Regions from separate parts of the Homo sapiens genome. Here all the other regions are linked to region 1. The links come from fine-mapping of genetic effects on gene expression. A gene starts in region 1. Each other region holds a variant in brackets. All regions are shown on one strand. Distances are from middle to middle. Region 1 holds the start of TIGD3 (tigger transposable element derived 3). Region 2 has its middle 39 kb from the start of CAPN1. Region 3 overlaps POLA2 (DNA polymerase alpha 2, accessory subunit). Region 4 overlaps POLA2 (DNA polymerase alpha 2, accessory subunit). Region 5 holds the start of DPF2 (double PHD fingers 2). Region 6 overlaps CAPN1 (calpain 1).

What was found.
Region 2: its variant is fine-mapped to the expression of TIGD3 in whole blood (INTERVAL, PIP 0.94).
Region 3: its variant is fine-mapped to the expression of TIGD3 in whole blood (INTERVAL, PIP above 0.99).
Region 4: its variant is fine-mapped to the expression of TIGD3 in whole blood (TOPMed, PIP 0.99).
Region 5: its variant is fine-mapped to the expression of TIGD3 in whole blood (TOPMed, PIP above 0.99).
Region 6: its variant is fine-mapped to the expression of TIGD3 in whole blood (INTERVAL, PIP above 0.99).

What each region holds. Positions count from the first base shown.
Region 1 is chr11:65,352,201-65,357,271 of GRCh38, reverse strand. It overlaps TIGD3 (tigger transposable element derived 3), which reads right to left and starts at 2,521. Exons shown (of 2, transcript NM_145719.3): 1 at 2,315-2,521; 2 at 1-1,479. The coding sequence starts at 1,463. The coding sequence ends at 48. It overlaps DPF2 (double PHD fingers 2), which reads right to left. Exons shown (of 11, transcript NM_006268.5): 11 at 3,010-5,071. RefSeq lists silencers at 1,814-2,003, 2,064-2,233, 2,244-2,303, 2,324-2,643, 2,734-2,793.
Region 2 is chr11:65,218,451-65,223,521 of GRCh38, reverse strand. It overlaps the pseudogene SLC22A20P. Among named protein-coding and RNA genes, the nearest start is that of CAPN1, 39 kb to the right of the region's middle. RefSeq lists a silencer at 1,527-1,756. The variant C/T (reference allele first, on the strand shown) is at 2,965.
Region 3 is chr11:65,272,987-65,278,057 of GRCh38, reverse strand. POLA2 (DNA polymerase alpha 2, accessory subunit) reads right to left here. Exons shown (of 18, transcript NM_002689.4): 5 at 2,060-2,166. Among named protein-coding and RNA genes, the nearest start is that of POLA2, 14 kb to the right of the region's middle. The variant C/A (reference allele first, on the strand shown) is at 2,755.
Region 4 is chr11:65,262,514-65,267,584 of GRCh38, reverse strand. It overlaps POLA2 (DNA polymerase alpha 2, accessory subunit), which reads right to left. Exons shown (of 18, transcript NM_002689.4): 2 at 879-1,003; 3 at 17-108. Among named protein-coding and RNA genes, the nearest start is that of POLA2, 3.1 kb to the right of the region's middle. RefSeq lists an enhancer at 4,712-5,071. The variant C/T (reference allele first, on the strand shown) is at 2,632.
Region 5 is chr11:65,329,883-65,334,953 of GRCh38, reverse strand. It overlaps DPF2 (double PHD fingers 2), which reads right to left and starts at 1,102. Exons shown (of 11, transcript NM_006268.5): 1 at 1,036-1,102. The coding sequence starts at 1,067. RefSeq lists a silencer at 661-750 and an enhancer at 801-850. The variant G/A (reference allele first, on the strand shown) is at 2,288.
Region 6 is chr11:65,204,121-65,209,191 of GRCh38, reverse strand. CAPN1 (calpain 1) reads right to left here. Exons shown (of 22, transcript NM_005186.4): 11 at 4,334-4,509; 12 at 3,471-3,482; 13 at 2,518-2,729; 14 at 2,373-2,412; 15 at 1,072-1,137; 16 at 930-987. Among named protein-coding and RNA genes, the nearest start is that of CAPN1, 25 kb to the right of the region's middle. RefSeq lists enhancers at 4,013-4,202, 4,244-5,071. The variant C/T (reference allele first, on the strand shown) is at 2,891.

The sequences.
Region 1 (5,071 bases):
ATGGGAAACAAGAGAGGAAGGGGCTCTGGCAAGCAGTGAAGGCGCCTTCATAGGCAGCAAAGCCGCTCCACCTCCTCCTCACAGTCGTAGAATTTTTCGAATAGCTCAGGAGAAGTGCTGTTGCATTCAAACCACCTCCTCAAGGTGCCCAGGGCCCGGAGGGCATCAGCTTTGGTGGGCAGGGGCTCAAAGGCACCCTCTCTGTCCCCCTTCTCGTCTTCAGTGCCTATCTCCTCCTTACATACTCCAGACCTTGGCTCCTCACCCTCCAGGTCCACAAAGCGGGAAAACTCCTCCAGGCTCAGCCCGCCGGGGACTGGTGGCATCTCAGAGGTTTTGTGCGAGGACGGGGGCGTTTTGCCGGGAGCCAGCCCTTCTTGAATGAAGCTGCTGAAAATGAGCTGAGGAGGCACCTTGGCCCAGGCGGCAGACGCCACGTGCAGGGCGTCCAGCACGGTGATGCCTGCCCCGGCCTCGGCCAGCGAGGTGCCATCCCTCTCGCTTTGGATGGCAGCCAGTTTGCCCAACAGCCGGTGTCGGTAATGGGCCTTAAAGGCCCGGACCACTGAGCTGGGCAGGGGAGGCGTGGTGCTAGAGGCGGCCAGAGGCAAGAGCTTCACGTGGTAGAGCCCAGGCAGGCCTGCCAGCTCCTCCACCACTCGGGCAGCCAGCAGCAAAGCCACCTGTCGGCCCTGCTGTCCCATGTCCCGGTCAAACTGTGCCAACCACTCTAACCAGGGGATGCCCAGGTCCGGGTGGTAGGAGGCAGGCAGAGCCTCACTGCGGATCCCAAAGAAGCATCTCGGGGCAGCCTGGAGCCCACCCAGCAGTACCCGCCGCTTCTCGGTGCCCCTGCTGTTGGCACACAGCAGCACCTGTACTTGATCACATGCACCAAAGCTGCCGGGCACTGCCCGATACAGCAAGGGCAATTCAGCACAGCCAAACACGTCCTCTGGAGAGAAGTCTTTTAGGGAAAGAGGCAGCTGAGCCTGGGATGTGAGCCCCGGGGGAGGTGGCTCAGGGGGGAATGAAGGCGCAAGAACATGGCGGGCCCCAAAGCCGACGTTGTTTCGGCGTTTCCAGCGGACCAGCCAGCCGATGCTGGGCACGAAGTCCTGGCCCATGATATCGGCCAGCTCCTTGGCTTTGTGGAGCAGCATGGGCCCCGTCACGTCCCAGGCCTTGGCCCGGGCAATGTGGTACCAGCAGAGCAGAGCCTCGTCGATCCCGCTGTACTTGGACTCCCGCTTGCGCTTGCGCTCTCGGTTGGCTGTGCCGCTGCACCAGTCCGCCAGCAGCTTCTCCTTATTCTTGCAGATGCGCGAGATCTGGGGCTGGGAAACCTGGAAGCGCCGGGCCACCTCCGACTGGGACATCTTGGACTCATCCAGGAGTTCCAGCACCTGGATCTTCTCGGCCAGGGACAGGGCGTGAAGCTTCTTCTTGCTGCTCAGCTCCATGGCCTCTCCGGGGCACCTGTGCGGGGAGGAAAGATTGAGCGGGTAGAGTAATCTGAGGCCGGAAGAGCTAGGAAAGGAGCGCAGGAGGGAAAAGAGATTAGATGAGGACTTGCGCAGGCACCGGGTGAGACTGGACCCGCTGAAAGAGGAAGTGGCTAGGCCGAGTGGAAGCCGGCTGGCCCCGTCCCCAGGATGCCAGGGCAGAGCTGGGGAGGGGGCGTCTCTCCACTCAGAAGGACAGGGGAGTCTGGGCTGGGGTCTGGCCTCACTCGGGAAGAAGGATGAAAAGTGCAGGGGACAGCTGCAGAGATAACAAAGGCATACGGACGGGGGAGGGCCTGGGACTGGGGCCGAGGGGGCAGGTGTGGGGCTACGGGGCTGCGGGGGAGGAGCCCCCGGGAGGGAGTGGGAGGCGGCTTGGGCTGGATTCAGATGACGCCGCTGGGGGGTGGGAGGTGGGTGGATGCACACAGAGTTGAGGTGACAGGTGTACAGACGACAAAGGGGACAGAGGGTGTCTGAAGGAGCGAGGCTAATTTGGTGCCGGGTCCTGAGAGGGAGGCTAGGCGACGGTCAGTCCTGAGGGGAGCGAGAGGGCAGGGCCGAGGGCGCAGGTGCACGAGCGACAAAGGGCGGGAGGCCTGAGGAGGCTGCGGGCAGCGGAGGGGCGGGGTGTCCCCGCGGGGAGGGTGGTGGCCTGGGAGGGTCCCAGGGCGCGGGAACGAACGCCCGGACCCAGGCAGGCCGGCAGCCGGACTCCGTGCCCTGGCCGGTCACTCCCCCTCGACCCGGAGTATGTCGGCGGGGCGGCCCCAGGCGCCCGCCCGCCCGGCCTCCCGCTCCGCACCCACCTCAGGCGCTGGTCCCGCGGCTCCAGCCCCTGCCCCCAGCCCGGCTCCCGAGCCCCTGTCCGGGCGGCGACAGCAGAACAGGGGAGGGATGGGCGCCACGACCCCGAGGGCAGAGCGGACCGAGGGCCTGCGCGGACGGCGGGCGGGCGGGCGCGCGCACAGCAGAGTCCCGTGCGCGCCGCCCGCGCCGGGCTCTCTCCCGGCTGCGAAGTCCGCGGTGCGGCCCCTCTGCACCCACCCGCCGCAGCCCCGCCCCGGCCCAAGCAGATTGGTCCTCAGTGGCGCCCCGTCCCTCCCCCGGCTAAGTTTCATTGGACGTTGCGGAAGTGGCGGTTCGTCGAGCCCCTCTGGGGGCGGGGCTTCTAGCGCGGAGGGGCGGGAGGCGGAGCCAGGAACCAGCAGGACTCCCCTGGGCGCCTCCAGCAGCCGCCGACCCCGAGGGCCCGACGAGCCCTGTAGGTGGTGTGGTGACCGCCGAGCTGACTTGGCGTCCCAAAGCCTCCCTGGCCGTGACCCTAGACCGCATCGGCTTCTTCGTCTACCAAGCAGGGCTAACAGCCCTCACGGAATTGTTTTGGGAAAACGATGAAAGGAGAAAATGGATGCAAGCTTTAAGCCACACAAAAGCTGGTTACCATGGACAGCGCTGGCTCGAGTCTGTCGGCCACGGAAACACTGCATGCTTGGGCCAGTAATGATTTAGGACGAGTATTTTATTAGATTTGGTACTTTACAAGATTCAAGTTCTTAAACTCAAGATCTGGCATCGTTCCCTTCCCTGCTAACCTTCAGTCCCGAATTAAACGCAGACGTCTTGACCCGCAGCCCAGCTGCTCTCCAGCCTCGCTGCTCCCTCCGCTCACAGCTCCGCATCCTCTGCCTTCCTCACAGGCTTCCGTCCGCACCCCCGTCCTACCGGCTGACACTGTCCAACTCTCCAAGACCCATCTCAAATCCTACCTCCCGCAAACCCTTCCTAAATTTCCTCACCTAGGCCTGCTACAGCGTTCTTATTTTCCACATTTCTTTTCTGGCTCTCGGACTACTCAGCTGCCAAAGCGCATCCATTGCTGTACTCCCTCTCTGCCTGGCCTACTTCAGTGGAAAAGCATGAGGACGGGCTGCGCTCTGCTCCTCACACAATCCCCAGCCCAGAGCACCCTGCTTATTTATTGAACATAACAGTGCAGGCCGGCCTAGGCTTCCCATAGGCAAGGATGACTTTCAGAATGTTCTAGAAAAAAGGATACTTCAGGGGGCCCATAACTGCTTGATTCAAATCTTTCCTTTAAAAACATAAAAACAACAGTTGGACTTCTAAAACACACACTGAAGACATACGCGCTGCCACGTAAGCTCTCCACATGTTCACTTTGCCTTCAGGGAAACTGTGTGCACATCAACGTGCCCTGGGAAAGGCTGCAGGGCTGCACTGCGGGCAGTTCAGATCCTAGAGCACTTGCTCTGGCCTGGGAGCGCTGCAGGCAACTGAAGCCACACAGACCCTGCTCCTGCAAGAACTTTTGTGTGTGTCCCATGGTGATGTCATTAGTTTGCTTATTAATTATATTTATATAAACTTCTGGTCCTGTTTTAAATGTCTGAGATTGCAAGGTCAACTGTTATAAACCTGTCATCACTTCCATCTATGTATCCAAGACTAGGAGAATTCTCCAAATCAACTGAAACATAAAAATAGATGTTAAAGTTGATTTTAACCCAAATTTTGTATTGATCAAAACAGCTTCATTGTTCTTTATAACAAAGAATTGTTATAAACTTGAATTTATGTAACAAAACAAAATAACCAATTTTATATTCGCTTTACATATTGGGGTTCCACAAAAAAATTTTAATTTGGGGGGAAAAAAGCTGTATTTCAAAACATTAAAAAAAAAAACCACCATCATGGAAATCTTAGGATGAAATGGCCTTCTTAATGGAGAAAGGCAGGAGATAAACCATCCAGCAGAGGGCTCTGTGTAAAAACATTTATTTTTACTAATGTTTAGAATACAGGAACTAAAGAAAGAAAAAAAAAAGACACCTCAACTCCAAAGCGACAGTGAGTTAGGGCCTGCCCACGGCCAAGGGGGAAGGCTACTCCAGGGTGTCCTGGCATGGACTGTCCCCCCACTACTTAATGTCAGTGCCACTAAGCAGAAAACTTGAGGAATCAGGGTGTGAAGACCTTACCAGCTGCTAGCGAGCGTGCAAGGGAAGAAAGGGATGTCTATGTGGCTTCCCCATGAGCTGAGAGCCAGGATACACGGGGCAGGTGGCAGAGGCTCCCAATTCAGTTAAGAGCAGGAGGCTGAATGCCCAGGTCCAGGAAGAACAAAAAGGGGATTTTGGAGGTAGGCTTTTTTGTTGTGTTAAAAAACAGGCACATTATCCATCTCCTTGTGGCCCCCGAGCTGCTGGCCTGGCCCCCTGATCCTTCCCCTCTCCCCACAAAACCAAAAGGAGTAGGAAGGGAGGCAGAAGATGAGAAATTCCAAGGGTGGGGAATGCTTCAGTCACTGGAGACCGACCGTAAGAGTGAGCCAGGAGAGCAATGGGAATAACAAGGTGAAGCTACTGTTCCCCCTGGGGTGGGGTGGAATGGGACAGGGCAGAACCAGGAGGGTGACCGAGAACATCCTGACTCCAGAAAAGAACACTCTGTAGCAGGAACACAGGGCCGCAGAGAGCCACTCTGGAGGAAAGAGGTGAGGCTATGCGGCACAGGGGCATGAAAAGCTCCTTGTGGACGTG
Region 2 (5,071 bases), 130 kb after region 1:
GATTGAGTTGGAGGTGCAGACACTTGCAAACTCGCTTTGGATGTAGGAGCTCATCACCTAGGTAAGAAGACTCTGCTCAGGGAAAGCGAGGGAGCTCGGACCCCACATCCCTGCTGGGAACCCCTTCGTCTGTGTGGAGGAGAGCTGGGGTTGAGGTCTTTGGTGAGGTGGCTGGCCCTTGTCTCCGCTCCGTCCAAGGACTGATGGCACTTGAGGGGTGTTGAGAAGTGCCAACACACTGTTTCCAGGGTGTTGAGAAGCTCCAACACGAACTCCAACACTACTGAGGTTCTGCGGTTCTGGAGGGCCTCCCACCCCATTCCTGGTATAGACTCGGAGATTGAGTCAGATAAGAGCAGGGGTTCCAAGTGGTTCTGCCACTTCCTACTGTGTGTTCTCAGGCAAGTTACCCGTCCTGTCCCCACTTCAATTTCCTCTTTGTCAAAAATGAGACATGAAATGAGATTACATACATAAAGCTCTCAGCCTAGTGCCCGGCATGGGGCTTGAGAAATGATGCTTATTGATAATAAATGGTAACTATCTTATAATAAATGGTATTTATAATGGTGCTTTTGTTATTGATTCCCCAGTAATTTTACTGTGTGGTTGCTATTTTAATAATTTTAGTTTATTATTTTATTAAAATTTCAACTGGATGTCAAGGTTAATAGGGTTATTTCCTAATTACAAAGGTGGATTGACTGATGAGCAAAGCAGTTAAATTATTTATCCTAAATCACACAATCATTCAATACCTAAACAACATCTTTCGCACATGAGAACTCTGCCTGTCCTGTTTATTCCCAATGTCTACACCTGGATGGCACGTGAGTCCTGGGAAGTTGCTAAATTCTAGTACAACTGGAGGTTGCCAGCAAGACTGAAGACTGTTCCCACCCTTCCTTCCTCCCAGCTCGCTTACCTCCTTGGTCAGCCTTTCCCCTTCCTCCTTCCTCCCGTTCATTGCAGCCACCTTCTGCAGATTCTGTACAGCTAACTGGGACTTGCCATGCAGGAGGAGCCAGCGGGATGACTCTGGAAGCCACCTGGGACCGAGAGGAGGAAGAAGGATCTGGGGCTGGGTAGAGCTCATTCTATTCCCCAAACCCAATACCCCCTTGTCTACCTTCTTTCAGACCCAAAAAAGATGACCTGTCCTCCTGTCTGTAGCATCAGGAAGTCTGGGGGCCATGCCAGCTTCCCTTTTTTTGCAGTACATCATACAGAGACTCACTGAACAGTATTTAAAGACTACAGAGGACTTGGCCAGGCACGGTGGCTCACGCCTGTAATCCCAGCACTTTGGGAGGCCCAGGAGGGTGGATCACCTGAGGTCAGGAGTTTGAGACCAGCCTGGCCAACATAATGAAACCCCATCTCTACTAAAAATACAAAACAACTAGCCGGGCATGGTGGTGTGTGCCTGTAATCACAGCTACTCAGGAGGAGGCTGAGACAGGAGAATCGCTTGAACCTGGGAGGTGGAGGTTGCAGAGCCGAGATCGCGCCACTGCACTCCAGCCTGGGTAACAGAGGGAAACTCCATCTCAAAACAAAAAAAAAACCAAAAAAAAAAAAACAAAACTACAGAGGACTTAGGATTTCAACAGACCCGTGGCATTTTTTTTTTTTTTTTTTTTTTGGACCAAGTCTCACTCTGTCGCCCAGGCTGGAGCACAGTGGAGCAATCTCGGCTCATTGCAACTTCTGCCTCCCAGATTCAAGTGATTCGCCTACCTCAGCCTCCCGAGTAGCTGGGATTACAAGCACCCACCACCATGCCTGGCTAATTTTATTTTATTTATTTAATTATTTTTTTTGTAGAGATGGGGTTTCACCATGTTGGCCAGGCTGGTCTCGAACTCCTGACCTCAAGTGATCTGCCCACCTCAGCCTCCCAAAGTGCTGGGATTACAGACGTGAGCCACCACACCTATCCCAGACCCGGTTTTGAATCTGGTTCTGACCCCAGCTGTGTGGCCTTGTGTGAGTCATGGGCCCTCTCTGGGCTGTGCTTCATTACCCTCTTATATATGCCCCAGTTATATTCTTATAACTTTATAAGCACTTAGAGTACTTATGAAGTGTTGAGGGATGCGAAGGAGTTGATGAAGGCAAAAGCTCTTGGGACGTTCCAGGGCCCCACACTAATGCAAGGGATTTTACCAGAGCGTCCCAGTAGCCATTCGTGAGGACTTGAGAGCTTGCAGCCTCCATGAACGCCTGCCATCCTTTGTGTCCCCTGTCAAGTCCAGCAAGCCCCGGTCACTGCACACCCCAACCTCTCACAGGGCCAGGTGAAGACTCGGCCACACAGGTGCACCCTCCCCCACCCCACTCTGTTCAGGACATACCAAGAATAGAGGAAAAAGATCAGGAAAGGAGCAGAGATGGCAAACTGCAGGCACCGCCAGGGGCGAATCAGGTAGGCTACCCCAGCCAGGATGAGCTGGCCCAGGGTGAAGGAATACCCCAGCAAAATACCCGCCACAGTCCGGCCCCGTGTGGGCATCCACTCCACAACTGGGGAGAAAACAGTGACATTCAGCGGCATTCAGCTACCCATGTGGTTAATTCACCACACCCCCCCTTATGATTCTGACCACTTAAACTCATTCCAGAGACCCTCTGAGACACAGGCAAAGGTGTCCCTACTGCACTCCAGATAAATTCTAAGTGGATCAAAGAACTCAATAAACAATAAAACCACAACAATGCCAGAAGAAATCATGGTAGATTATTTTATAATCTTAGAGTAGGGAAAGGCTTTTCCAAGAAAGTCACAAAACCCAGAGGCAATAAAAGGGGAGGTTGACAAACTTGGAGTCGTAAAAATAAAAAATGTCCGCATTGGAATAAAACAAAACAAAACACCGTAAGTCAAGCCATAACGTCAACAAAAAATGTAAAAATATAGTTGTAACCCAACTAGCAGATAAAGGACTAATTTTGGGCTGGGCG[C/T]GGGGGCTCACTCCTGTAATCCCAGCACGTTGGGAGGCTGAGTCGGGCGGGTCACTTGAGTCAGGTGTTTGAGACAAGCCTGGACAACATGGCGAAACCCCGTCTCTACTAAAAATACAAAAATTAGCCGGGCATGGTGTTGTGTGCCTGTAATCCCAGCTACTCGAGTGGCTGAGGCACAAGAATCGCTTGAACCTGGGAGGCGAAGGTTGCAGTGAGCTGAAATGAATTGGACCACTACACTCCAGCCTGGGCGACAGAGCTAAAGACTCTGTCTCAAAAAATAAAAAAAGAAAGAAAGAAGAAAGAAAGACTAATTTCCCTAATACTGAAAGAGTTTTCACAAATCAATTAGAAAACGGCCAACAAGCTAAAAGGAAAATGGGCAGAGGTGCTCAACCCCATGCAAAGACAGAAAATACTAATTTTTATAAATAGCAAAACTTGGAACAACCTGAATGTCCATCTGTAGGGGACTGGTTAAGTAATGATGACACACCCTTACGAGGCAGCTGTAACAAATTAATGAGGAAGCTTCTTCCCAATGGGCAAGAAGCCTGTGCGTCCAGTCCTTCAGCAAATCCTTCAGAATTAAGCCAGAATCTAAGCTCTCCTCACTGCCTCTGCTGCTGCCACCGTGGCCCAGTTCAACCTGGTCTCTTGCTTGATGACAGCAGCAGCCCCTTAACCGGCCTCCCTGCTTCCGTCCTGGTGTCACATGGCAGCCACATAGATCTTATCAGATCTCAAATCCTAAATCAGATCAGGTCTCTCCCTGGTCAAAATCCTCCGGTGGCTCTTGTCTCATTCAGAGACAAAGCTGAAGTCCTAGAACGCTGGACACAGGGTCCTGCAGAACTGCCCTCCCCGACCTCACCTGTCGCCCACCTCCCAACTCTGCTTCAGCCACAGGGCCCTCCTTGCTCTTCACCCTGGGCACACTTTCCCCTGCAGGGCCTCTGCCTGGCAGTTCCCTCTGCCTGGAATGTTCTACCCCAGAAACCTGCAGGGCTCATTCCCTCAACTCCTTCCAGTTTTGCTCAAAATGACCCCTTTTCAGTGAGTCTTTCCCAAACCACGCTAATTAAAACTGCAGACCCCTCCCCTCCAACCTGGCCATTCTTTGTGGGATTTTTTGTTTGTTTGTTTTGTTGAGGCAGAATCTCACTCCATCACCCAGGCTGGAGTGCAGTGGTGCGATCTCGGCTCACAGCAACCTCCACCTCCCGGGTCAAGCAATTCTCTTGCCTCAGCCTCCCGAGTAGCTGGGATTACAGGCGCCCGCCACCATGCTCGGGCTAATTGTATTTGTAGTAGAGACAGGGTTTCACCATGTTGGCCAGGCTGGTCTCAAACTCCTGACCTCAGGCGATCTGCCCGCCTTGGCCTCCCAAAGTGCTGGGATTACAGGCATGAGTCACTGCGCCTGGCCAACCCGGCCATTCTTATCCCCTTTCCAGGCTTCGGTTTTCCTCTGTAGCACTTACTGTCTTCGAACATACTATACGATTCGTTATGCATGCTGGTGATATCTCGCCTCGCTAGAACATGGACTCCAAGGAGCAGGGCTGTGTTCACCGCAACCTCTAGAGCCTCTCCTGGCACTAGGAGGCTCTCTATCAGGCAGTGGACCAGTGACAGCTTGGTTAAGTGAAAGAATCAAGATACAGAACAGTGTGCGCAGGAACAAACATGAGGGGAGGCATATATGTATGGAGGGTCACCACACTTGTGCGGTGGGACCCGAGGCAGGGCATGGCCTGTGGTGGGAGCTCCAGGGCACTCGATGGAATCTCTACAAAGTCGTCTTTACAGGCGGAGATGTCCCCAGACAGTGCCCGGCCTCTCCAGCCTCAGGAAGTGTTAAGAGGCTGGGCAGTCTCTGATGCGTGTGTATGTGTGTCTGTATGTGTCTGTGTGTGTCTGTATGTGTCTGTGTAGGTGTTAGAGCCCATTCCAGCACGAGGTGGACCTCAGACACCTGTTTCAAGCCATGGCTGGATGCCCACCCTGCAGAGTGAGCTGTGTAGGCTGGGATTGGCTGAGATCCCGCTGTGTGCTGGGAGAGGGAGGGGAGGTCAGGTGTCCTGGTTCTCTGGTCCCAAGA
Region 3 (5,071 bases), 79 kb after region 1:
TCTGGTTGTAAACACGCCGTACAGAGAGGTCTATTTAAAACAGGCTTTGTTTAATGCACTGAAACTCTGCGGGAACCAGTTTTATGTGGGGCACCATCGCAATTAATGCCATCATTCTTTCTTTTCACAGCCTACAGAAAATGAGCTCAATTAATTATCTCAATCTCCAGTGCCACCTCTACGTGAATAGTTTAGAAGTTACTTTCATACATTACAAAACCAGTTTCTGCTGTCAGCTTTATTAGTGTGCATTAAAAAATGACTAGGCAGCATTTTGCCAGCTTCTCCAAGCTCTTCCCTGGGAAGCTCCATGAGCCATCCATTACAGCAGGCCCTTTAATGCAGCAAGATGCTCACATGAGGACAGTTGTAAACAGATCTACAGGTTTCAGAGCATTGTATTGACATTTGGAGAATATAACTCCTGCAATGGTGCTGGCACGTCTATAAGAACCATCCCTACATACCAGGTTGCAAAGATGCTCTTAAGTCTAGAAAGCTTTCTTCCAAAAAGCCTGAGAACTCCCCAAAGCAGCAGTAGACTACCCTAAAGTAAAACTGTCCTTCAAAATCCAATTACTGCCAGGCATGCTGGCTCATGCCTGTAATCCCAGTACTTTGGGAGGCTAAGGCAGGCAGATTGCTTGAGGCCAGGAGTTCGAGACCAGCTTGAGCAACATGGTAAAACCCCATCTCTACAAAAATTATAAAAATTAGCTGGGCTTGGTAGCATACACCTGTAGTCCCAGCTACTCAGGAGGCTGAGGTAGGAGGATCACCTGAGCCTGGAAGGCCAAGGCTACAGTGAGCTATAGTTGTGCCACTGCACTCCAGCCTGGGCAACAGAGTAAAAGCCTATCTTAAAAAAAAAAAAAAAAGAAAGAAAAGAAAAAAAAAATCCAATGACCACTCACCTTGAATGACTGCAGAGCTTCTATCACCACCTTTCTAAAGTGATAGAGCTGAAAAGGCCGAGAGCAGTGGCACATGCTTGACATCCTACACTTTGGGAGGCCAAGGCGGGTGGATCACCTGAGGTCAGGAGTGCAAGATCAGCCTGGCCAACAGGCGAAACCTCGTCTCTACTAAAAATACAAAAATTAGCCAGGCATGGTGGCGAGCGCCTGTAGACCCAGCTACTCGGGAAGCTGAGGCAGGAGAATCGCTTGAACCGGGAGGCAGAGGCTTCAGTAAGCCAAGATGGTGCCACTGCACTCCAGCCTGGGTGACAGAGTGAGAGTCCATCTCAAAAAAAAAAAAAAAAAAAGTGATAGAGTTGAACAATCTTAAGCTCTGGTTCATCTAGAAGTGATCCAAAGTAGAGGTAATGACTCCTGGCAGTTGGTGTTTCCCTGAAGGGTTAATACTACTGCTCCGGAGCCTCATCTTGATGTGGAAACTCCTAAAAACCCATCTACTCAGCAGAGCACTTGCCTATGGAATTCTCTAATATGAGACGTGTCATTTATGGATTTCAAAAAATTACATATGATCTTTGTGGATTTATGTGCAATGGTGGCAGAGGGACAAAATACCAATTAAGTCAGGGCAGAGTCACAGTGACAAGAAAACTCTCAGAAACTAGTTCTAACCTGACTTGGAAACAATAAACAGGTTATGAAACATTATGAACAAAGATATGTGCTTTTCTTTAAAAAAAAAAACTTTAGATGAAAAGAAAGAAAAAGAAACCCAACAAAACACAAACAGAAGCAGGTGGAAACCTACTTGCCTCTACTGACAAGACCTGTTAAGACTCTTAGACTTCTGAATAGACAGGTTGTTTTCAATACAAGATATCAGTTCCCGATCTAGGAAATGAGCCCTAGAAAAGTGGGTGGAAAGTGAGTTTCCTTAATTACCGTAAGAAACAGTAATTTTCCACAAAGAAAAGGAGAGCAAGGAAGGCAGAGAGCAATAGGCTTTCAAGCCAATTCACTGCAGAGGTACATGCCCACCTATAGTTAATTAATAACTCTGCTGTTAGCCTTCCTCAGATAGCCAGAGAAAGGGGAGGGGAGGCCAGCTTTATGGCACTTGAATGAATTATGATCCATACCTTGGAGAGAAACTTGACGGTGAGAGTAGCTGATGGGGGCTACGAGTTGACACACTCCTTTTTGTTAGGGGGGTTTCTGGGGTAGAGATAGCTCGCTTCTGAGAACCCTAGGGAAAAAAAAGGAAAACAAAATCTCAGTCCTACTAGACCCAATACTAATTAAGTGTATAGTACCTTGGAAGAAAAGGGAGAACATGTCCAAACGAAGGCACAAAATAGGACTGGGTGGGTTCTCTTCTTAAGGCCCCATCATCCAAGCATAATCTCAAAAAGAAATCTTCAACAACTGTAACCAACATTCAGGACACTGTCCCTATTTTGAAGGCAATTACGAGAAAGCAAACATTTTCCAAAAAGGACCACCAGGCTGGTAATGTGTCCTGTCAAATCCTTCATATGTTTACTTTCTGTCCCTACCTCTATGTTTTCAAACAGATATGAGTTTTACAATGCATAGTTTTGATCTATGTGTACACATTTTCCTGAGAAGGAATGGGACATTACTACTTACTTTGGCAAAGTCTACCATACATTTTCAAAGGAAATGACTCCAGGCAGATAACAAGGTTGAGCTCATACTTGAAGAGTTAGCAAACATCTGATGGTCACTCCTTTTTTTTTTTTTTTTTTTTGACTCATCAACAAGAATCCAAAGATAAGCCCAGAACGGAGGCTGAAACCTACAGTCCAGAGAC[C/A]TATTGCTCCCTAAAGTCTAGGATAATCGACTGTAATAGAGAAAACAAAATCCTTGCCTGGATAGCAGCCAGGAAGCCAGCTAGTCTGCAGCTTTCCCTGCCCTAGGGCTCCTCCTGGCTGCAAGTTTAAGAAGTTATATTGCAGAGTGGTCAGCTGGTGGCAACTGCAGGACAGAATGCCAGAGAACAGATTCAAAACCATCAAAACCAGCTGCAATGGAAAATAGATTAAAAAAAAAATCCCTTATTCTACTACCCTGATATAATAACCAGTTTTGAATATTCCTTAATGGTATTTTAATATTTTTCTAGGCCAGGGGTGGTGGCTCATGCCTGTAATCCCAGCACTCTGGGAGGTCAAGGTGGGAGGATCACCTGAGCCCAGGAGTTCAAGACCAGCCTGGGCAACGGCGAGACCTCATGTCTGAGGAGGAAAAAGAAAAGCCAGGCGTGGTGCCTTATAATTTGTATATTAAGATTACAAATACACAAATTAGAATATACAAATTATAGTCATAATCTTAGTTTAAATATAAACCTAAGTATTTTATGTGCTGAATTTTTTCACTCTATATTAATTATCAACATTTTCCCACACTGTTACATTTTTAATCTTTTTTTTTTTTTTGAGATGGAGTCACTGTCACCCACGCTGGGGCACAGTGGCAAGATCTCGGCTCACTACAACCTCTGCCTCCTGGGTTCAAGCGATGCTGCTGCCTCAGCCTCTAGAGTAGCTGGGACTACAGGTGCCCGCCACCACATCCAGCTAATTTTTGTATCTTTAGTAGAGATGGGGTTTTGTCATGTTGGCCAGGCTGGTCTCAAACTCCTGACCTCAATTGATCCACCTGCCTCGGCCTCCCAAAATGCTGGAATTACACCCATGAGCTACTGCACCTGACCCAATCTTTTTCCCTTTTTTTTTTTCCGAGACGGAATTTCACTTCGCTCTTGTTGCCCAGGCTGGAGTGCGATGTGCGATCTCGGCTCACTGCAACCTCAGCTCACTGCAACTCCACCTCCCGTGTTCAAGTGATTCTCTGGCCTCAGCCTCTTGAGTAGCTGGGACTACAGGCATGCACCACCACGCCCAGCTAATTTTGTATTTCTAGTAGAGATGTGAGTTTCGCCATGTTGGTCAGGCTGGTCTCGAACTCCTGATCTCAGGTGATCCACCTGCCTCGGCCTCCCAAAGTGCTGGGATTACAGGTCTTTATCCTTTTTAGTAGCTGTGTTATTTAATTAAACTGACCTACAATGATTTACATAATTACTTCTCTATTGCTGGATTATGGGTTGCTTGTAATTTTCAGTGATTACAAGTAATGCTGAGTCTCAGGTGAAAAGTGATTTGGCAAATTAAGATTTTAAATTAAAAAAATGCTAAAATGCGTATCTTCATGCATACAGCTTTTCCCATAATTTGAATTATTTCTTCAGAAGAGTTTTTTTTTTCCCCCTAGGGAGAATTACTGGGTCAAATGATAGAAAAAGATTTTATGAATTTGGCCAGGGATGGTGGCTCGTGCCTGTAATCCTAGCATTTTAGGAGGCTGAGGCAGGAGGATCACTTGAGCTCAGGAGTTCAAGACCAGCCTGAGCAACATAGTGACACCCTGCCTTTATTTTTTTTATAATTAAAAAAAAAAGATTTTATAATTTTAACACATTTTCTCAAACTATCCCTCCAAAAGATTCTCCTAATATACAGTGGGCTACAACACTCCACGGCCAGTGTTGTGGGGCAGGGATATTTTGAGAGAATGACAGTCTGTCTCGCAAGACGTGGCAAGGTGACAGCACTTTGGTAAACAAGGCACAGTCTGGTGTTCTAGTCCTCAGCCTCAGGGCTGAAATCCAATAGTGTTCACCAACTCCAGTACCAGTTCTCAAGGATGCGCTCCCTTTAACCAAGCTCATACGATTCATTATTAACACTTAATGCCAATTTCATCATGTTTTTTTGTTGTTGTTGTTTTTGTTTTTTGAGACGGAGGGTTGCCCAGGGTGGAGTGTGCAGTGGCATGATCTCAGCTCACTGTAACCTCCGCCTCCTGGGTTCAGGCAATTCTCCTGCCTCAGCCTCCTGAGTAGCTGGGATTACAGGCATGTGCCACCATGCCGGGATAATTTTTGTATTTTTAGTAGAGATGGGGTTTTGCCATTTTGGCCAGGCTGGTCTCGAACTCCTGACCTCAGGTGATCCATCCACCTTGGCCTCCCAAAGTGCTAGGATTACAGGCATAAGCCACTGCGCCTGGCTAGTTTCATCTTTTCTTTTTTTTTTTTGAGATGGAGTTTTGCTCTGATTGCC
Region 4 (5,071 bases), 90 kb after region 1:
CAGCAGAAAAGGATACAGCTCTTGAATGGAAACAATGTCTCTAGCTCCTGCATGGCCACTGTCCTTGCAGGTACTATGCCTGGCTTTCGATAATCTTTTGCTCAGAAACTGAAAAAGAAAAGATAGTGAATACAGTACTTCATAGTCAAGTAATAGCAGAGGTGTTTTCAAAAGCCTTGAGATAATAAAAGGTATTCAAAATATAATCAAAGATCTAACATTCCTCAAAGAATTAAGATACACACAGACTAAAAACAAAGACATCCCATGACTGTCTATAACATATAACAATCCTAATAATACCAATTATTTGGTGAAGACTTATCACCTGCTGGGCATAGTTTTAAGTGCTTTATGTCCATTCTCATTTCTTTTTTTTTTGAGATGGAGTCTCGCTCTGTCCCAGGCTGGAGTGCAGTGGCGCAATCTCAGCTCACTGCAACCTCCACCTCCTCGGTTCAAGCGATTCTCCTTCCTCAGCTTTCCGAGTACCTGGGATTACAGGCGCCTGCCACCATGCCCAACTAATTTTTGTATTTTTAGTAGAGACAGGGTTTCACCACGTTGGCCAGGCTGGTCTTGAACTCCTGACCTTGTGATCTGCCTGCCTCGGCCTCCCAAAGTTCTGGGATTATGGGCATGAGCCACGGCGCCCAGCCCCATTTAATTCTTATAACAATCATAAAAAATACAGATTATTAGACCCAATGTCAGAAAAGGAAACTGAGGCTCAGGGACATAGTTTGTCCAAGCTCACACTGGGACTGGAATCCAGGCCTGACTCGAAAGCCCACACTCCTCTCAATATATCACAATGCCTCCCCTGTAGAGCAGAAATGGAGAATCACATTATTAGTTTGCTTTCATTTTGTTCTTACCTCATGCTCAAAAGAGTTCAGGATCTCTGAGGTAAGGCCAACTTTATGTGTGCTGGTGCAGAAGGCTATAAGCTCGCCTACCATTCCCTCCTCATTCTGTCCATACTGAACACAAAGCTCTACCACTGTAGAAAGGAAAATTGGACAAGTAAAAACTTAGTTCATTTCTCGAAGTTTCACCTAGAAAAGCAAAAATAATCCTGGTTTACTCCATCAATGTTTATTCAGAATCTATTAGTGCCAGGCACTGTTTTGGGCAATGAGAAAACAGAAGCATCCTTGTCCTTACAAAGCTCACCACTGAGGGGAGACAAAAGAGGATAAGGGCAGAATCAGGGGGACCAATTAAAGAATCATGGAAAAGCCCAGGTGAGAGATGATGGTGGCTTGGATCAAGGTGGTGGCAGTGGAGATGGCGAGAAGTGGCTGGACTCTGGATAGGACTTTACATGCTGGAAGTGAAGCCAGTGGGATCTGCTAACTGAATGTAAGGTATGAGAAAAAGAAAGTCAAGGATGATGCTGATATTTTTAGCCTGTGCAACAGGAAGAGTGGCGTCCCTATTAACTGAGATGGGGAAAAGAGCCAGAGGAACTACTCTGAGGAGAGAGAGGAGATACCAGGAGCTTAGTTTTAGACATGCAGAGTTTGAGGTGCCATTTAGACATCCAACTGGAGACAGCAGGCTGAACAAACCAGCCTGTAGTTCAGGCAAGGGTTGTGGGCGGAGGTATAAATTTGGGAACCATCAGTAAATACATGGGATATAAAGCTATGAGACCCCAGGTGAGATCGCCAAGGGAGTGAGCGTATCTAGAAGGGAGAAAAGATCCCAGGCTTGAGTCTTGGGGCGCCTTAGGGCCTCTGAGGATGAATCGGCAAAGCCTGAGAAGCGGTGACACAAGCAAAGCTGAAGAAAAACTAGGAGTAAGCCGGATGCAGTGGCTCACGCCTGTAATCCAGTATTTTGTGAGGTTGAGGTGGGCAGACTGTTTGAACCCAGAAGTTTGAGACCAGCTTGGGCAACAGGGTGAAACCGTTTCTATAAAAAATACAACAATTAGGTGGGCTTGGTGGCATGTGCCTGTAGTTACAGCTACTTGGGGGCTGAGGTGGAAGGATTGCTTGAGCCAAGGAGGTTGAGGCTGCAGTGAGCTGTGATTTGCCCATTATACTCCAGCCTGGGCAACAGAGCAAGACCCTGTCTCAGAAAAAAAAGAAAGAAAAACTAGTAGTGTCTAAGAAGCTAAAAGAAAAATGTGTTTAAAAAAAGAAAAAATGACAAACAGTGTCAAGTGCCGGTGCTAATTCAATTCAAGATGAGGACTGAAAATTCATCACTGGTTTTAGCATGGTGAAGGTCACTGGTGACCTTGAGTAGAGCAGCTTTGGTGAAGTGGTGGCAACAAAAGAACTTACTGAAATGGATTTAAGGAGGAAATATTTAAAGATGGCAAGGCCCCCCCCCTTTTTTTTTTGGAGACAGAGTTGCACTCTGTTGCCAGGCTGGAATGCAGTGGCACGATCTCGGCTCATTGCAACCTCCACCTCCCCGATTCAAGCGATTCTCCTGTCTCAGCCTCCCAAGTAGCTGGGACTACAGGCATGCGCCACCATGCCCAGCTAATTTTTGTATTTTAAGTAGAGACCGGGTTTCACCACGTTGGCCAGGATGGTCTCCATCTCTTGACCTTGTGATCCGCCCTCCTCCGCCTCCCAAAGTGCTCGGATTACAGGCGTGAGCCACCGCACC[C/T]GGCCGACCCTTTTGAGGTCTGCTGTAATTGGGAAGGAGAGAACTGGAGTGGGAAGTAGGGTCAACAGAGTATTTTAAAGGCAAGATTGGAAGCACATTTCTATACTAGTAGGAAAAAAATCTTGTAGCAAGGAAAATAGAAAATATGTAAGACAGGAGAATTACCAGTGATGTCCTTAATTGCTTCAGAAGGAATGGGGTTTAGGACTCAAGTGGAGGACTTGGATTTTGCTAGGAATACGGAAAGCTTATTCATTATAATAGGAAAGAAGGCTAGGTATATGCCACAGATATGGGTCAGTGAGACATAATGGTGGTAGCTGATCGAAGTTTTCTAATGCTTCTACATTTTTCAGCAAATAATAGAAATTTGTCAGCTGAGAGTGAGGGTGGGACAGAAGGATGTTACAGGAGAAGGTGGAAAACAATCATCTGGAAGACTCAGAGTAAAGAGACCAGGGGCCTGGCGCAGTGTAATCCCAGCACTTTGGGAGGCCAGGGTGGGCGGATCACCTGAGGTCAGGAGTTGAAGACCAGCCTGGCCAACATGGTGAAACCTTGTCTCTACTGAAAATACAAAAAGTAGAACAGGTGTGGTGGCTCACACCTATAATCCCAGCACTTTGGGAGGCCGAGGTGGGAGGATCACTGGAGGTCAGGGGTTCGAGATCAGCCTGCCCAACATGGCGAAACCCCATCTCTACTAAAAATACAAAAAATTAGCCGGGCGTGGTGGCGGGAGCCTGTAATCCCAGCTACTCGGGAGGCTGAGGCAGGAGAACCGCTTGAACTCGGGAGGCAGAGGTTGCAGTGAGCCAAGATTGCACCATTGCACTCCAGCCTGGGCAATGAGAAACTCCATCTCAAAAAACAAAACAAACAACAACAAAAAAAACAGGGAAATACGGTTGACTGTCAGGAAACATTAAGGTGCCACTGAAGTTACTGATGATCCAAAGTCCACAATTCCAAAGCCATTGCCATGAGATGAAAGCAACTGGCATCTTGGCCTGAAGCCTTTACAAATCTGGTTCACATAACTAATTTCTCTCATGCTGATTTCATGCTTACCACATACATTTCTGACTATGATCAGGTTTTCCACTTAAGTCTTTTTTTTTTTTTTGAGACAGAGTCTCGCTCCTGTTGCCCAGGCTAGAGTGCAATGGTGTGATCTCGGCTCACCACAACCTCTGCCTCTCATGTTCAAGCGATTCTTCCGCCTCAGCCTCCTGAGTAGCTGGGATTACAGGCATGCGCCACCACGCCCGACTAATTTTGTATTTTTAGTAGAGACAGGGTTTCTCCATGTTGGTCAGGCTGGTCTCAAATTCTCGACTTCAGATTATCCACCTGCCTTGGCCTCCCAAAATGCTGGGATTACAGGCGTGAGCCACCACACCTGGCTAGTCTTCTTTTAAAAAGAGAAGGACCGAGCCTGCTGGCTTATGCCTGTAATCCCAGCACTTTGGAAGGCCAAGGTGGGTGGATCACTTGAGGTCAGGAGTTCGAGAGCAGTCTGGCCTACATGGTGAAACCCCTTCTCTACTAAAAGTACAAAAAAAAATTAGTCGGGCCTGGTGGCGGGCGCCTGTAATCCCAGCTACTTGGGAGGCTGAGGCAGGAGAATCGCTTGAACCTGGGAGGCGGAGGCTGAAGTGAGCCGAGATTGCACCACTGCACTCCAGCCTGGGTGATAAAACAAGACTGTCAAAAAAAAAAAAAAAAAAAAAGAGAGAGAGAGAAGGCACTGGGCATGAAGACTTGAAGTATTCTGGTTTCTGAAAGGAATTTCTCACCATAAATTAACGTTTCGTTATCTTTTTGTATATAAGAAGTTCAAAGTGTTGAGTGGTTAAGGCAGGTGCACATTCATACCGATTCTAGAACTTCCACATCTCCCAGGCTTTGCTTCAAATGACTCCTTACACTGCTCTACAGCTTGACCAACACGATGGACCCGTATGATGCAGCACGGGACTCCAAGGCAGGACACCTGGCTTCACAGACAGCTCAGGCAATTAGCTTTCCTTGTCTGTTTCTCCATCTGTAAAGCTCCCTAAAGCTCCTTCCACAGCTCAAATTCAATTTTAGGAACCTACCTCAAGGGATTCATATTTGCACAGACCACCAACAGCTATGATAAAATAACTGATGGATCAGCAGAGGTTTAAGGTGTAGGCTGGAAAGGGAGGAGCCAAGAATAAAAAGCTACATTTCAAAACCCCCACATCTGTTGCTTTGTTACCGGGGCTTCAACAATTTCCAAACTCAGGTGCCACCAGTGCCTAGTCTCTATCTAGCACATCCCAATTCCGCCTTTCGGGAACTTCGAGTTGGTTTAAAATCGTGCTGCATATTCCTATTTTTGATTTGGCATCCAAGCGGTACCCGGTGGGCATTTCAAAGTCCCCACATCCTAAATCTCAAAACTCAAGTT
Region 5 (5,071 bases), 22 kb after region 1:
AGGCCACGACAAAGACAGATGAGAAGCTGTGAGTCCCTTAGAAGAGTTACCGAACCTTTACCTCGTCATCCAGTCAAAATGCAAAAACCCTGACTGGACAGCTAGACACCACTCAATTTTCCCACCCTTGCACCAAGCCCAACATACCCATTAAAAGAAGCTCTATTCGCCCACCATGCATTAACCCAATCTAAAACTCATTCTGATTCTTCTGTAGGAATAAATCAAGTCCCAAAGCATCTTTAACTCACAGGAAGCAGTTCATAGGCCAGCGTCCATGGCCCCAACAGCTATTAACTTTAACTTTGCTTGAAATCTGACCAGCACAATGGTATCGTATAATAGGAAGAATGCCCACCTAGATGCCCCTTTAGGCTAAGCTGTCCTGAACGGCTTCGGTCCAGTTGCAGGTTTTTGATGGCTGCTACTGGACGGGGCCAAGGCCCACTCCCCTGAAGTTCCTTCCCTTCTGGATCCGCTCCTCGATAAATTCTTCCCAAGAATATTTGTAGTCTTAGGTACCTGCCACCCAAGATCCTCCCAAACATCACGGGGCTGCCTGGAACTGAAACAGCCAGCCCCGCAGTGCACTCCGCAGGGGCCGCCGAGCCTGTTGCTGCAGCGAACGGGACGGGACGGGGCGGGGTGGGCGGCGGGCCAGCCGTAGGGCCGCCCGGGCCTCGGCCCCGCTCCTCCGGACTGAGGCGTCTCGGGAGAGGACCGGGACGGTGAGTCTCGCGTGCAGGCAGGGCGCCATGCTCTGGAAACCGTCAGCCCCGAGGAACGCTGAGGCCACACAGCCCCGCAGGGATGCCGCCCGTCGGGGCTCCAGTGTGCCCCCACCAGGGCCTCCACAAGTTTCCAAAGAAGCGCAACGTCTTCTCCGGAGTCTCCTGTTGCCCTCCCCACCAGGAGTCGCAACATGGCTTTCCCGGGGATGTCCCTCTCTCCGCCTAGTCCCTTCCCCCACCGCCCCCTACTCCCAGGCCCTTTACAAAACCTGCCGCCCTAGGAGAGAAAGAAACGACCACTCACAGCTTCACTACATTCTCCACCACAGCCGCCATCTTCCCTGTTCCTCTGCCTCGGGCCGAGAAGCCCCACAGTCCGCAGCGCGCAGGCGCCGGGACCGCACCGGGGTACCAGGTTCCTTGCCCTCTGCGCAGGCGCCGTCCGGGCGCGCGCACTAGAGCGAGCACTGAAGAAAGAGCTTTACGCCTGTTCGCGGGGGCCGGGTAGGAAATGCGTGGACCCCACGGGAGCCCGACGCGCAGGCGCAACCGGAGATTGGCATGCATCCCGGAGCTCCGGTTCGAGGCTTGCCTCTAATATTTAGAGGAGCAGGAGCCGGGGCCGGGCGCGGTGGCTCACGCCTGTAATCCCAGCACTTTGGGAGGCCGAGGCGGGCGGATCACGAGGTCAGGACATGGAGACCATCCTGGCTAACACGGTGAAACCCCGTCTCTACTAAAAATACAAAAAATTAGCCGGGTGTGGTGGCGAGCGCCTGTAGTCCCAGCTACTCGGGAGGCTGAGGCAGGAGAATGGCGTGAACCCGGGAGGCGGAGTTTGCAGTGAGCCGAGATCGCGCCACTGCACTCCAGCCTGGGCGACAGAGCGAGACTCCTTCTCAATAAATAAATAAATAAATAAAGGAAAAAAAGAAAAAGAAAAAAGATTAGCTGGGCATGGTGGTGCATGCCTGTAATCCCAGCTACTAGGGAGGCTGAGGTGGGAGGATCACTTGAGCCCAGGAGTTTGAGGCTCCAGTGAGCCACTGGAGCCACATCACTGCACTCCAGCCTGGGCAACAGAGCGAGGCTCCATCTCAAGAAAAAAAAAAAAAAAAAGGAAAAAAAATATATATACATATATATATACACATATATATATACACATATATACATATATATATATACACATATATATACATATGTATATATATACATATGTATATATATATATATATATATAAATATAATCACTAAAGCTGAAAATACACATACCCTATGACCCAGCAAAGTCCACTCCTGGATATACACACAAGAAAGCTGTACAAGAAGCTGAGTGCAATGCCTCATGCCTGTAATCCCAGCTACTTGAGAGGGTGAGGTGGGAGAATCACTTGAGCCCAGGGGTTCAAGACCAGCCTGGGCAACATAGCAAGATCCTGTCTCTTAAAAAAAAAAAACAAAAAAAAACAGGCCAGGAGCATTGGTTCACGCTTGTAATACCAGCACTTTGGGAGGCCACGGTGGGCGGATCACGAGGTCAGGAGATCGAGACC[G/A]TCCTGGCTAACATGGTGAAACCCCATCTCTACTAAAAATACAAAAACAAAATTAGCCGGGCATGGTGGCGGACGCCTGTAATCCCAGCTACTGGAGAGGCTGAGGTGGGAGAATGGCGTGAACCTGGGAGGCGGAGTTTGCAGTGAGCCAAGATCGCGCCACTGCACTCCAGCCTGGGTGACAGAGCGAGACTCCGTCTCAAAAAAAAAAAAATAAAGCTGTACAAGAATGTTCGTAACAACATTATTTGTTTATATTTATTTATTTATTTATTTTGAGACGGAGTTTTGCTCTTGTCGCTCCTTAACAAATTCTTCCTTCCAGCCCAGGCTAGAGTGCAGTGGCACTATCTCAGCTCACTGCAACCTCCACCTCCTGGGTTCAAGTGATTCTCCTGCCTCAGCTTTCCGAGTAGCTGGGATTACAGGTGCCCCCAGCTAATTTTTGTATTTTTTGTAGAGACAGAGTTTTACCACGTTGGCCAGGTTGGTCTCGAACTCCTGACCTCATGTGTTCCGCCCGCCTAGGCTTTCAAGTGCTGGGATTACAGGCATGAGCTACCACGCCTGGCCAGCTGATGTAACCTTTTCTTAAACAATCCTAAAAGAACTGAAAGCTATTGATGCTGGGTTCATAAGCTGCCTTTCCAATTATATGCAGCTAGCCTATTTATTATTAGTACTATTTTTAAATTCAAACTTTTAATTGAAATATACATAAAGAGAAGCACATAGATCTTATGTAGCTTGACTAATTTTTTTTTTTTTTTTTTTGAGACGGAGTTTCCCTCTTGTTGCCCAGGCTGGAGTGCAATGGCGTGATCTCGGCTCACTGCAACCTCCGCCTTCCGGGTTCATAGCTTGACTAATTTTTTTCAATTTTTTAATTTTTGTGGGTACATCGTAGGTGTATATATTTATGGGTACACGAGATGGTTTGATGCAGGTATACCATGCAAAATAATTGTAGCTTGATTGATCTTTACAAAATAGACAAACCTGTGTAACCACTACCCAGATGAAGAAAAAGACATCACTAGCACCTCAGTAGCCATCTCATGCTTCTAGCCCTAAAGATTAGTGTGTCTGTGTAACTGTATGTCAATGGAATCATACAATATGTCCTATTTTGAATTTGGCTTCTTTTGTTCAATATTAATTTTTTCCTTTTTTTTTTCAGCCCCCACAATGCTTTGTCTACAGTATTACATTTTTGAGATTTTTTTTTTTTTTAAGACAGGGTCTTACTTTGTCATCCAGGCTGAGTGCAGTCGTGTAATCATGGCTCATTGCAGCTTCGACCTCCCAGGCTTAAGTAATTCTCCCACCTCAGCTTCTCGAGTAGCTGAGACTACAGGCACACCACTACACCCTGACTAATCTTTTTTTTTTTTTTTTTAAGACAGCGTCAGCCAGGCATGGTGGCTCATGCCTGTAATCCTAGCACTTTGGTAGGCCGAGGCGGGTGGATCATGAGGTCAGGAGTTCGAGACCAGCCTGACCAACATGGTGAAACCCCGTCTCTACTAAAAATACAAAAAAATTAGCTGGGCGTGGTGGTGTGCGCCTGTAATCTCAGCTACTTGGGAGGCTGAGGCAGAAGCATTGCTTGAACCCAGGAGGCGGAGGTTGTGGTGAGCTGAGATTGTGCCGTTGCACTCCAGCCTGGACAATAGAGCAAAACTCCGTCTCAAAAAAAAAAAGACAGTGTCTCAAAAAAAAAAAAAAAAAATCTCAGTGGCACAATCTTGGCTCACTGCAACCTCTACATCCCTGACTCAAGCAATCCTCCCACCTCAGCCTCTCTGGGACTATAGGCACACGCCACCATGCCCAGCTAATTTTTGATTTTTTTTTTTATAGAGACAGGGTCTCACTATGTTGCCCAGGCTGGCCTTGAGCATTCCTTGCGTTCTGGCCTCCTGAAGTGTTGGGATTACAGGCGCGAACCACCATGCCTGGCTGAGATTCATTCATGTCCTTTTGTGGTAATAGTTCTTACATTGCTGTTTAATCCATATTACTGCTGATGGGCATTTGGGTTATTTCCAGTTTGGAGCTATTACACATAATGCTGTTACGGGCTGGGCGTGGTGTTTCACGCCTGTAATCCCAGCACTTTGGGAGGCTGAGGCTGGCAGATCACTTGAGGCCAGGAGTTCGAGACAAGCCAGGCCAACATGGTGAAACCCAGTCTCTACAAAAAATACAAAAGTTAGCCGGGCGTGGTGGTGGTGCCTGTAATCCCATCTACTTGGGAGGCTAAGGCATGAGAATCGCTTGAACCCAGGAGGTGGAGTTTGCAGTGAGCCAAGATGGCTCCACTGTACTCCAGCCTGGGTGACAGAGCAAGACCCTGTCTCAAAAAAAAAAAAAGAAAGAAAGAAAGACATGTTACGTCGCCGAACAACAGGTACTCTCTCTATATAGAAAACAGTATATATAGTGTTTCTCTGACAGACAGGAATCACGGAGTAGGAATTTTACATGCACATTCTTGGAATCTCAACTCTGCGCTCTGGCTGATTTAGAGCTTTTAAGACCCAAGGGAATAATGCTTCCACCAGGGGGCGCAGTAAGTTTCTCTAAATCACGATCAGATCGTCCGTCAGTAGGCCATATTTCGCTCCACATGCCACTGGGCAAGAAAATAAAAAGCGGGTCCCACTGTTGGCTGGGGCGATCAATTCCAATTGTAAAGCTTAAGATTGCTATTACCCAGTGGGGGCAGGGAGAAAAATCCGAGGAACTCCCCTGGGATGGCTCTTAATATTTTATTCGGGT
Region 6 (5,071 bases), 150 kb after region 1:
GTGGGCAGGATTGTTTGTATCATCAGGAAGTACAAGTAAAGTATTTTAGCAATCAAGCCAAAGTCCCAACAGCCACAATTAGTCCAAAGTAAAAAGAAATGAGTGTGAAACAGAAGAGCGAGAAATTGGGTAGAAAGATGGGGCAGGGCAGGGCTTGCTGTAGGCTAGGAGGGTAAGCAGTGCTTCACTAGCAGAGAAGAGGAGGAGAAAAGCTCTGCTTAAGGAAACCGTGTGGATGGAGGTCAGTGGCAGCAAAGGGGAGGGGAGGGGATGAGAGGCCAGCAGTTGTCTGCCCTGGGGAGTGAAGCCAGTCACGTGGTGTTCCCCAAGCCACTCAGCCTGGCCCAGGAGGCTCTGGGAGGAAAGGTAGACTTTTCTTTGGCACTAAGGTGCTGCTCCTGCTTTTTTTTTTGAGACAGGGTCTTGCTCTGTTGCCCAGGCTGGAGTGCACTGATGTGATCACAGCTCACTGCAGCCTTAACCTCCCTGGTCTCAAGCCATCCTCCCAACTCAGCCTCCTGAGTAGCTGGGACTATAGGTGCATGCCACCACGCCCAGCTAATTTTTGTACTTTTTTGCAGAGACAGGGTCTCTCCATATTGTCCAGGCTGGTGTTGAACTCCTGGGCTGAAGCGACTCCTGCCTCGGCCTCCCAGAGTGTTGGGACTACAGGTGTGAGCCACTGTGCCTGGCCAGGCTGCGCTGCTAATCCCACAAAGGCACAGCACCCGAGCACAGGGATTATCAGGATGGCAGGTCAGGAGGAGGAGTATGGGATGGAAATGGCAGGGAACTGGGCTCAGAAAAACTGGAGGATTCCCCGACTCATGCAGACCAAGGGATGAGGTTCAGCTCAATGTGTGAGCAGGAGCCTGGATTCTGATGTGGAAGAAATGGTGGGGTGGTGGGACAGCCCCGCGGGGACTCACGTTTGCTGATGATCCTATTGAGGATTGTCCGCAACTCCTTCACGCTGATCTCCATGTCCTGGGGAGAGAGAGGAGGTGGCACCTGCCCCAGGAGAGGGCTGCCCCTCACAGGCCCCTCCCAACCTGCCATGCCCCAACCTACCTCCCCTGCCAGCTGCCTGAAGAGGGCCTTGAAGTTCTCGTCAATCTCCTCTTCTGAGAGCACTTGCTGGACCGAGAAGGGGAGAAAGCAGGTAAGAGAGGCCCCGGCCCTGCCCGTGTGGAGGCAGCTGGAGGGAGGGCTGAGGTCACATATCTGCTACAAGTCACTTCGCTTCTCTGAGCCTCACTTTTCTTTTCTTTTCTTTTTGAGATGGAGTTTCACTCTGTCACCCAGGCTGGAGTACAGTGGCGTGATCTCAGCTCACTGCAACCTCCGCCTCCCGGGCTCAAGCCATTCTCCCTGCCTCAGCCTCCTGAGTAGCTGGGATTAAAGGTGCCCACCACCATGCCCGGCTAATTTTTGTATTTTTAGTAGAGACGGGGTTTTGCCATGTTGGCCAGGCTGGTCTCAAACTCCCGACCTCAGGTTATCCGCCCGCCTCAACCTCCCAAAGTGCTAGGATTACAGGCGTGAGCCACTGAGCCCGGCTTGAGTCTCACTTTTCTAATCTGAAAAGGGAATCTCGTTCCTGCCCTGCCCTGCCCCGCCCCATATCCAGCACTCATGTGACCTAAATGAAGGGGATGCTGTTCAGCTCAGTGAGTAAAAGGCAAGAGTTTGGGCCAGGTGCGGTGGCTCACACCTGTAATCCTAGCACTTTGTGAGGCCGAGGTGGGTGGATCACTTGAAGTCAGGAGTTTGAAACCAGCCTGACCAAAATGGCAAAACCCCGTCTCTACTAAAAATACAAAAATTAGCCAGGTGTGGTAACGTGCGCCTGTAATCCCAGCTACTCAGGAGGCTGAGGCAGGAGAATCACCTGAACCCAGGAGACGGAGGTTGCAGTGAGCCGAGATCACGCCATTGCACTCCAGCCTGGGTGACAGAGTGAGACTCTCTCAAAAAAAAAAAAAAAAAAAAGGCAAGAGTTTGGATCCCTACTGTATGGCCTCAGGCAAGTTCCCTAACCTCTGTGAACCTGAATTTCCCATTCAGAGGAGGTATGGTAACAAGACCCGGACAGGGTTGATGTGGGGAGGAAATGAGGTAACACAGGTGAAGTGCTCAGCACAAACCCGCCACCGGGTGAGAGCTCAGGGCCTGTGCCATTAGTATCACAGGTCCTCTGCAAACTGTAAAGTGCTGGGCGGATGAGGGATTAGCACTACTCCTATGGCTTCCACCAGGAGGGGATCTTCCCTGTTAGCAGGAACTCAGGGGACAGGACACCTGGGTCCCCATCACACACCCAGGGGTGAGGAAGAGAGGAGGACGGGGCCTGGTGGGGTGGGACCACGCACCTCATCGGGGAGATTGGCCTGGATCTGGTCATCCAGCTCCCTGCAGAGAGTGGGGAGGAAAGGAGCCAGTCAGAGGGGGACAGCAGAGGGCCTGAGAGGGGAGGCTGGGAGAGGGGAGAGTGGCAGGGGCCAGTCCATGACTCACACAGTCCCAGCACTCTTCTCTGAGAAGAAGCGCAGCACGAAGTCGCCCTCCTTGTTGGGCTCGAAGGTGGAGGGCACCACCACATACTCCCCGGGTGGCAGGCGGAAGCGGGTGCTGACCTCTCGCAGGTTGATGAACTGCTCTGAGCGCGCCCGAGACGCATTGGCCAGGAAGAAGTCACGCTTCAAGTGTACGGCCGGCTGGCCCACCAGCTGGTGGGAGGGAGGAGGGAGCAGGGCTGCAGCTGCCCACTCAGCCCACCCTCAGGGGCCACCCCCAGACCCAGACTCCAGGCTCCTTGTCCTGGCCAAGGGGCTGGAGAGCTGGGGCATGGCTCACTCACAGCCTGTGTGACCCTAACAAGACATTTTGC[C/T]TCAGTTTCCTCATCTGTAAAATGTAACAACCCTACTCACTGCAGAGGGTAGAGGAGAGGAGCACCGGATTGCAGATTAGGCATGTGTTTCAATAACACTGTCATTATTATCACTGGGAGCTTTCCCCAGGTCAGGTACTGCAGGGTACTCGGCACCTCATTTGCTGTTCTGCTGTTACACCCATTTTACAGACACAAACACAGGCTCGGAGCTTAAGCAACTGCTCAAGGGTACAGAACTCTCAGCCTGTCTAATGCCCTGCTCCTGACATTGCTGGACCGCCCTAGTTGGCACTTACTTGGTGTAGATGGCAAGGCAGGAAAAGCCTCATGTGTACATGTCAGACAGGGGCTCTGAGGACCAGGGCTCAAATCCAGCTCCCTCACTGACTACCTGTGCTGACCCTCAGGAGAGCAATGTTTGCTCTGCCCACTGAACAGGTGGGGAGAAGCATTTTTCAAGCAGTGAAACAAGGTGACTTCTTAGCTCTCCAGGCCAGGGTGGGTTTGCCACTGGGTTGCTCCCCTCTGGCACCATCAGGGGTGTGTGACTGCAGGTGGGTCATGGTGCCACACCTACCTCCGGAGGGACCTGCAATAGAGAGACAGGGGAAGTCAGAGATGTGTGTTTGTCCCAGGGCGGGGTCACAGTGCATGCTGGGCAGAGGTCTTGAGTTCTTAGACGGGACTGATGGGATAAGGAGGCAGAAGGCAGGGCCCTGGGGACCCAGATCTGGTCCCTGCACCACAGCAGGGCCCCAGGAGGGAGGGCTCAGGCAGGGTCCTCTTGGTCCTGGGAATGCTTGCCCTAGGACTCCATTCTGAGTCAGAGGCTCCAGGCCAGCCCCCGGGGTGGCCAACTGCAATGTTCCAAAGCCCAGGGACAGGAAAGGGCCACCGCAGGCTGCTGCCAGGGGGTTTGGGTGTGGGCCAAGACTGCGACCAGGGAGGTCCAGAAGTTTCTCTCCCTGTCTTGAGGGCAGTGTGTGAAGCAGGGCAGATACAGGGCAAGAGCAAGGAGTTCTAATCCCAGAGCGACTGGCACAGCCTCACCTTGGCCGACAGGCCCTCCCTATCCCCTATCTTTCCCCTGCCAGCTTCTGCTCACAGCTTCCAAGACGGAGGGCTCAGTACTCCCAGGCATCAGCTGAGCCAGCTCCCTCCTCCAAGAGCAGCAGGCCGCCCTCTAAGCGTGAGGTGAATCCCAGAATCTCCCTTCCCTGAGCCAACCCCCTTCCTCTCTTTCGGCCAGAGGGCCTCAGCAGGTGCCTCCTGGAGGCTGAGATTTCCCAGCCCTCAGGATGGTGGGGGGAGTGGAGGGGAATTTGTGGGGAAGGGCATGGTCCCTGGCGCCCCCTGGTGGAAGCCCGCCTGCACTGCGGGTCGGGGGCGCCAGGTCCTCTGCCTGCTCAGTGAGATCCACCGGTGATCCACCCTCCTGACCTCGTAGACCGCGAAGCCAATAGTCTCCATGTCGCGGCCGAAGCGGCGCTCGCGGCGACGGTGCTTCTGCATAAGGGCGAGCACGAAGCTGCAGCCTGACTCGCGGTCCCCGTAGTCGTCCGGGTCATCCGTCTCATCCAGCCGGATCTTGAACTGAGGGTTCACCCAGAAGGTGGCTGCGGGCAGGTGAGGAGGCGGGGATCAGAGGCAGGGCGGGGCAGAGCCAATTGGCCCCCAAGCCTCCTCAGCACGTCCCTGTGCACGCATTCATTCATTCAACAAATATTATTGAGCACCTGGAACATGCAGGGTGATGGGCAGGCTGGGCCAGGCTCGGTCCATGCCCTCACGGCCTGCATTTGGAAACTAGAGGCTTAAGTCTGAGCAAGTCCGTTAGGTTAGCGAGCAGAGCAACTGCAAAAAAAAGCAAGCAGGAGTAGATCAGAGTAGGGGACCTATGCGCTGAGACCCGAAGGGGCTGCCCTGGGAAGCTGCTGAGAAGCAGAAGCCAGGCGGAGGGCACCCCAGAGCAGAGGTGAGGAAGGGCCCCACGCATCTGCGGACAGGGAGCACTTACGGAGGCTCTAGGAAACACGGAGACCCAGGGAGGCCGCAGAGCTCCCAGGAGCCGGCCAGGGACTAGGGCGTGTGGACTGAAGCAAAGGGTAAGAACCCTCCCACAGCTTGCAGCGAGGAGGCATGTGACTGCATTAGGACTCTAAAAGGTGGCTCGAGTGC